Homo sapiens: one gene and its partner. The protein of the gene in region 1 interacts with the protein of each later gene in a biochemical or structural test. Each region holds a gene or a part of one and is shown in the gene's direction. Other genes may lie near its edges.

Region 1 (3,854 bases):
CTCACTGGGAATGCCTTTCTTTGTCTAGGAAGTGGACCTCTACAGAATGAACAGCCAGGACAAGCTGGGCCTCACTGTGTGCTACCGGACGGACGATGAAGACGACATTGGGATTTATATCAGTGAGGTACAAAGGCTGATTTTGTTTTTCTAACTATCGTATCAAGACCAAAAGGGTTTTTTTTTTCATGTTCACCAACCCTAACCCACCTCATCAAGATCTCTTTGGAAAGACACAAATTATTCTGTCCCCCTCATCACACTCCATGGCGCTGCATCTTTCCACGGAGGTTAAGTTCTAATGCCAGTACTTATGGCAAAATTACCCTTGAGAAGCCTGCAAATCAGCCATAAAATGGAGCCGTTTACATGGTTTTGTGTGTTTAGCCCCAAGGGAAGAGCAGATTCACATTTCCCAACTCGTGTTCATTGAGTGGAATGGTGGATGGAATCACTTACACTTTTTAAAGCCTCTCTCTCTCTCTCTCTCACACACACACACACACACATTTTTTTTTCTCTTGGTGGAGTATATATAGTTGACTTCATATAAGTTAAATGTGACTTGTATGTACTTATCAAACTACATAGATGCACGCTGTTTTGATCTTCCTTGAGAAGATAATACAAATCAACTGATTTCAGTATGGAAACTTTACAGTGCACACCCATCCTTGCAAACACAGAAACCCAATTTTGTCAGGAAATAAAATTTGTCGCTACAGAATGATCTACTAGACTTAATAATTATCTCTTTGGTTGTATGTCATTCACCAAGCTTAAGTTAACCCATCCTTTCTGCATTTGGGGACATCCCTCCCCTTACCAGTCCCCCTTGTCCCAATTATATTTCAATTTTAAAGTTATTTTCCAAATTTTAATACAAGTATTTGGTATAAAATAAGGTATAGTTGCTAGTCCACATAATGAAGGGTATCCTTTAACCTGTTCTACATCATTGATTTGATTTTAATTACCATGCATGCAACAAAAGTCAGCTGTGCCTCCTCAGATCAGCAGAGCCTGCACACACTGCTGTGTAACAGGGTTGCTACACAGGGATCCAAGAACCAGCCCTAGAAAGGGCTTAGAAGCAGATCAGCTCATGTTTGCCTCTCCTTGCACGACACTAAGTCTTGTTTATTTCTGTGCAAAACAGAAACACAGGGGTGAGCATGACTGTGTTTTAGAAATGGTTTTGAAAGTGCTGTTGCTTATTTTCATGCATGTCTGCGTTTGCGCTGAGATGGTCCATGTGTGTTTCAGATTGACCCTAACAGCATTGCAGCCAAGGATGGGCGCATCCGAGAAGGAGACCGCATTATCCAGGTAAGTCCACTTCCAAACAATGGCCTCATGATGGGCCTATCACTAAAGAACAAACTGGTTCTAATGATAGGTCTAGGGTTGAAAATGCAGAAGCGGTTAAAGAACAGGGATCACAAACGCAGATGTGTAGTGAGGCCAGACAAGTTAAACTAATTGTGAGGCTATCTCTGAGTCATAAGACGCAAGAGGGAGTGGTGAGGACTGGGACAAACTAGATGGGGCATGTTCTCTCCAAAGAGGGCCTTGCAAAATTTGAGCCAGTTCTCCTTATTTTGTTTCATTCTGTTTGGATCAAAACAAACATCAGTGAGCCAAAGTCAGGCCAACAGTTTACAACTTGTGAACTAAAATAATTCTCGTTTTAGATTTCTCTGAAAGATTAACTTTGGACCAAGCATTTCAGAGGCTCGTCCATAAAAGGGGAACATTTTTGGCAAATTTAGCAGCATCGATTGAAAAGTCTTAGAAATTTTCTGACTCAACATCTAACCATCCTGGAATCGCTTCTAAGGGTCATTACTTGACCTCGAGCCCTGTTGCTCCGTCTAGTCCAAATGAGACCATTCATGTCTCTTTTGGCTACAACCTTCTTTAATCTCACAGAATTGAAATTCTTGGCTTCATTGTGTCCACAAGGCTTAGCTTTCTACCTCTTCTCATCCGTATCCTCTCATTCTTAATCCACTGTGTTTTTCTCATTGCATACCTCACCACAGGTCATTTTGATTTTCTTCTTCCACTGCCTACTCTGGGTTTCTCTAGCCTTCAGCCAGAACCTGTGCTGCTCAGGATCGCTTGCCCTAGGGAAGTGACCCAAACCTTCACACCTGAAGGGTCAGGGTCCTCAGCATACTGCCTCTTTTTTTTTTTTTTTTTTTTTTTTTTGATTGCTGGAGTTTTCCATTAACCTTTACTACTGAGAATGGAAGCACTCAGAGGTACTCCAAGGAATCCCCTAGGTTCCAGACACAATCCTCCCTGCCTCCACTGTGTCACAGCAAGCCCATCTTCCTTGGTAATTGAGGGCAATCACTCCAACCAATAGAGTCACCCCTTTTGCTGCCTGTTGGCTCACTAGTGTAAGGAGGCATATGGAAGCCTCCACTTCCAATTCAGTGGAACCATTGCTGTGTCCCCTGGAGGCGGCGTTCCACCAGGACTAAGACCTCCAGACCAGCAGGGCTCAAAGTCACCAGGACATGCAAGCAAAAATCCTGCAAGAGGGTTAATCAAGTGTGATAGTGAGAGTGTCACGCCCACTTGACCCTCCGCCTGGCCCAAAGAAGTTTAAGTGTCAAACTGGGGACACAAAACACCATGTATAATTCTATTCCATTTTCTTAACCTCAGTTTGCTGCTTTTTCTTCTATATTATCCAATAATGTCTACATATACTCCTGCCTGAATATTATGTCTAATTGCTTCCATGTTCCCTCTGCAGAGCATTATGATTTTTCTCAGTGCCGTCTTCTGGAGGTCCAGCCCCTTCTGTTCACACCCCACACATCACAGTCACCTCATGAACTATACTCATGGAGGCTCCCTTATAGACCAGAGAAACTGCATTGGTCTGAGCAAGACCTTTCCTTCCTAACATCAGTATTCTTTTCCAGCTACACGGAAGTTGTATGTTCTAACTGTGAGTGGGTGACAAATGCAGGTCTGAAATAAAATAGAATGATTTTGCACCATCTAATCATGCTATTTGTCTCCCCACTCTCCCCACCCCCCCTTTTTTTTTAAAAGATTAATGGGATAGAGGTGCAGAACCGTGAAGAGGCTGTGGCTCTTCTAACCAGTGAAGAAAATAAAAACTTTTCATTGCTGATTGCAAGGCCTGAACTCCAGGTAAATTGGCTTCCTACAGATGAAACTGGGTCTATATTTCTAAAATCAAAAGATCCCCAGGCCTGCAAAAGAGCACCTGAGTATTGGCTGCGAACTTGAAGGTGCTTTGTTCCCTGGAAATGTAATCAAACTTGCTGTGATTCAGAATTCACTTTATGAGTTAGCCATTTAAGGTTGGTTAGATGCCCACCCTGGCATCTATACTGCAGGCCCACGACGTTCATTAATGCAGGGATCATAGGGAAGGAAAAGGAAACAGAATTGAATGGAAAACACAACCGGGGTCACGTCAAGACATTTGACTTCCCAAGGCCTGACATATGTTCCAGCCTTGATCTGTGCAGGTTTCATTTACAATAGCAGAGTATGGGGAATTAAAACTTGCTCTTTCAAATTAAAAGAAACATTGAATGATAAATAATTAAAACTGATATGACCACCGAATAAGTGCTAGGCCCTCCGTGGAGCACTTTACACACAGGAGAGCCTTCCCAGGAGATGGAAGTTCCCAGAGATTCAAAAGTTACCCAGGAAAGGCCCAGAAGGAGGGTGATAAAGCAGGGAGGGGTTCAGGCCCAAGTAATCTGATTCAGAAACCTCTGTGTTGTAATAACTCCTTCCACAGGAGGAATCATGAACTCACCCAGGTGGCACTCTTGATCCACTTAGAATGGCTC
Region 2 (2,551 bases), on another chromosome or scaffold:
CTGGGGCTACAAATTGGTGGGGATGGATTCTACTGTGTCAGCACAAATGCTCTTCACAGTGGTTCTAGCATTTAAAAAACTTCCCGGGGAGAAGAACAGAGGGGATGATGGGCAGTTTCCTAGGTAACACCTAGAGTTATAGAATATCTCATTACATAAAATGTATGGAATTAATAATACCAAAATTAATTATTTGATGGAAAGATCTGCTTTGACTAAATGTCAAAAATCTGCAAACCAAAGACATTATCTTCCCCTCATCCCAACTCAACTACGAAACTTAAAATTCCCTTTAGAGTGATAGGACATTTAGTAAAGTATTTGCAAACTTAAAAAAAGGAACATTTAATGATCATCAAAATTAAGTACAGATTCAGTAATGTAGACCAGACCACACACCAGCACCTGTGAGTCTCATCTCAGATCACAGCTCTCAGCATAGGGCTTCATGCATCACCGCCTCTACAGAGGCTAAGGCTGCCAGTCAAATTTGGAATTATAGCGTAGTACTGGGACAAAATCTCAAATCTTGGATGTTCCAGAAAATCAGGGAGAGATGGCTACTGTAATCATGGGAGCCATGAGTAAATAGTTAAGTATTTATTAAATAAATACTTAATCTGGATTGGCTGATAAAAATATGAAATCTGAAAAAAAAAAGAAAGAAATGGAAGTGGTATATTTGACCAGTTCAAGTGAAACCAATGGAATGCAAAGAACTTTCCAGGACTGTCACATCTCTAAAAGTACCCTGCAGTCATAAAATAAAATCGATATGTATATATGTATTTCCTGGGTCATTCAGTGCTCAAGTTACATGCACTCCTACTTAGACAGGTGGCTCCTTAAGAACATGATGGGAGTACACCAGGTGCAAATATTTCTACTTTTGTAGCCTGCTGAGAAGGAGTCATAACACAGTCCACAATTGCAATCTCTCTCTAGTCAGCCATTCCACAGGGACTCAACAACAAAAGCCGCACGTGGTTATGGATGGCAGCAAAGGAAAGGAGTTTAGGTGTGTGTTATTATAAATAATGTTTAACTAAATAATAAAACATTATTTCATTACAATTATAATTATAAATATTGGTGTTTTGATATTGAGAGATATTAGTGGTGTTTACTGTGGAAAATCTTAGTAAATATCATTCTGTGTACTAAAATCCTAACCTATTAATAGGATGTGTGCCCTATGTCAGACAGTGTGCTAAGCATATTAACTATATTATCTCATTTAATCATCACAACAATCTGCTGGTTTGGACACTATTCTCTCTGGAGGCAATATGGATGAGTTCTTACGGATATGGGGTTTGGGGTCAGAAACATCTTGATTAAAATTTTGACTCTGCCATTTTCTAGCCCTTTTATGTTGGGAAAGCTACTTTTTCTAGTCTCAATTTCCTCATAATAAAATGAAAATCAATTATAAGATCGATTTCCATAGGGTTGTCATGAGTTTTGAGTAAAAATGTGTATGTAAAGTTCTTACCACAATACCTGGCAGAGAGTAAGTATTCAATTAATGTTAGCTATTATTATCATCATAATCGTTGTGTTAAATATATTGCCCAAGATAATATGTGGGGGAATGTTTGTTTTATATGCATATTGTATCCTGACTGTGTGCAGAACACATTATGTGTATTGCATATATGTAAAAGAAGTGTACAAGGAAGTGGCCATCCTTGTTCAAGTTACGTATCTAGTTAGAACAACTTCCCAGTCCATTGGAGTTCTTTGAGAAGCCTCAGGGAAGTAGCTCTGGGTCCTTCTAATCAACCTCCCATTACTGCGCCAGTAAGTTTCTGTTTCTTATAAATAAACTCTTTGCTATTCAGAAAACCTCAAGGGGCCCCCACATTCACTAAGCATGGGGCTCCTAACTGGGGTCCAGGTCCATAGAGTGTAGGAAGAACATATTAGAACAATACTTGTGCTTATTTTTATCTAGCTTTTTTATGTTTGTGTATGTTTTATAATGGCATAATAGTACAATGGTACATGTACATAATTTTAAATAAATAAATGAATGAATGAATAAATAAGCATATGCCTGGTGCATGCATGTGACAATATTGTCGCAGGTAGGGTTGCATTCACTGAAATCTGGAGAGCACTGAACTGGAGAATAAACCTTCCTTATACTCACGGTTCTTTATGTTTAGTCCCCAGTCTACTTTGCCAAGTTTATCTCCTACCATTTTTATTAATCTTTTATCACAAATCTTTCAAACAAAAGTAGACACAATCGTATGAATTCATGTGGACTCATTACCTACCGATTCATGTCTAATCTTATTTTCTGTATTTCTACCCACCTCCTCTCCCACTGTATGATTTACAAGCAAGTCCCAGACATCATAGTGCTTAGCCCATGAATATTTCAGTAAGAATATCCTGTGAGAACTTTTAAACATAACCACAATGACGTTTTTGCATTTTAAAAATTGGGAATTCCTTAATATTATCAAATAAACATTACAGAAATAAATGATGGAGAAAGTAATAATCCCCTTAAACCCAACTTCCAAAGATAACCATTGTC

Evidence for each region. Proteins that work in one complex are often made in the same cells at the same time.
Region 2: the proteins of PDZRN3 (region 1) and FRMPD4 interact in a test that uses a peptide from one of them, tested with the Homo sapiens proteins (one large-scale study listed by IntAct).

The regions. Positions count from the first base shown.
Region 1 is NC_000003.12:73,387,291-73,391,144, reverse strand, and holds part of PDZRN3 (E3 ubiquitin-protein ligase PDZRN3), read left to right. Parts: intron 1-28; coding exon 29-127; intron 128-1,266; coding exon 1,267-1,329; intron 1,330-3,075; coding exon 3,076-3,177; intron 3,178-3,854. UniProt on the Homo sapiens protein: E3 ubiquitin-protein ligase. Plays an important role in regulating the surface level of MUSK on myotubes. Mediates the ubiquitination of MUSK, promoting its endocytosis and lysosomal degradation. Might contribute to terminal myogenic differentiation.
Region 2 is NC_000023.11:12,722,473-12,725,023, forward strand, and holds the end of FRMPD4 (FERM and PDZ domain-containing protein 4), read left to right. Parts: 3' UTR 1-2,051; downstream 2,052-2,551. UniProt on the Homo sapiens protein: Positive regulator of dendritic spine morphogenesis and density. Required for the maintenance of excitatory synaptic transmission. Binds phosphatidylinositol 4,5-bisphosphate.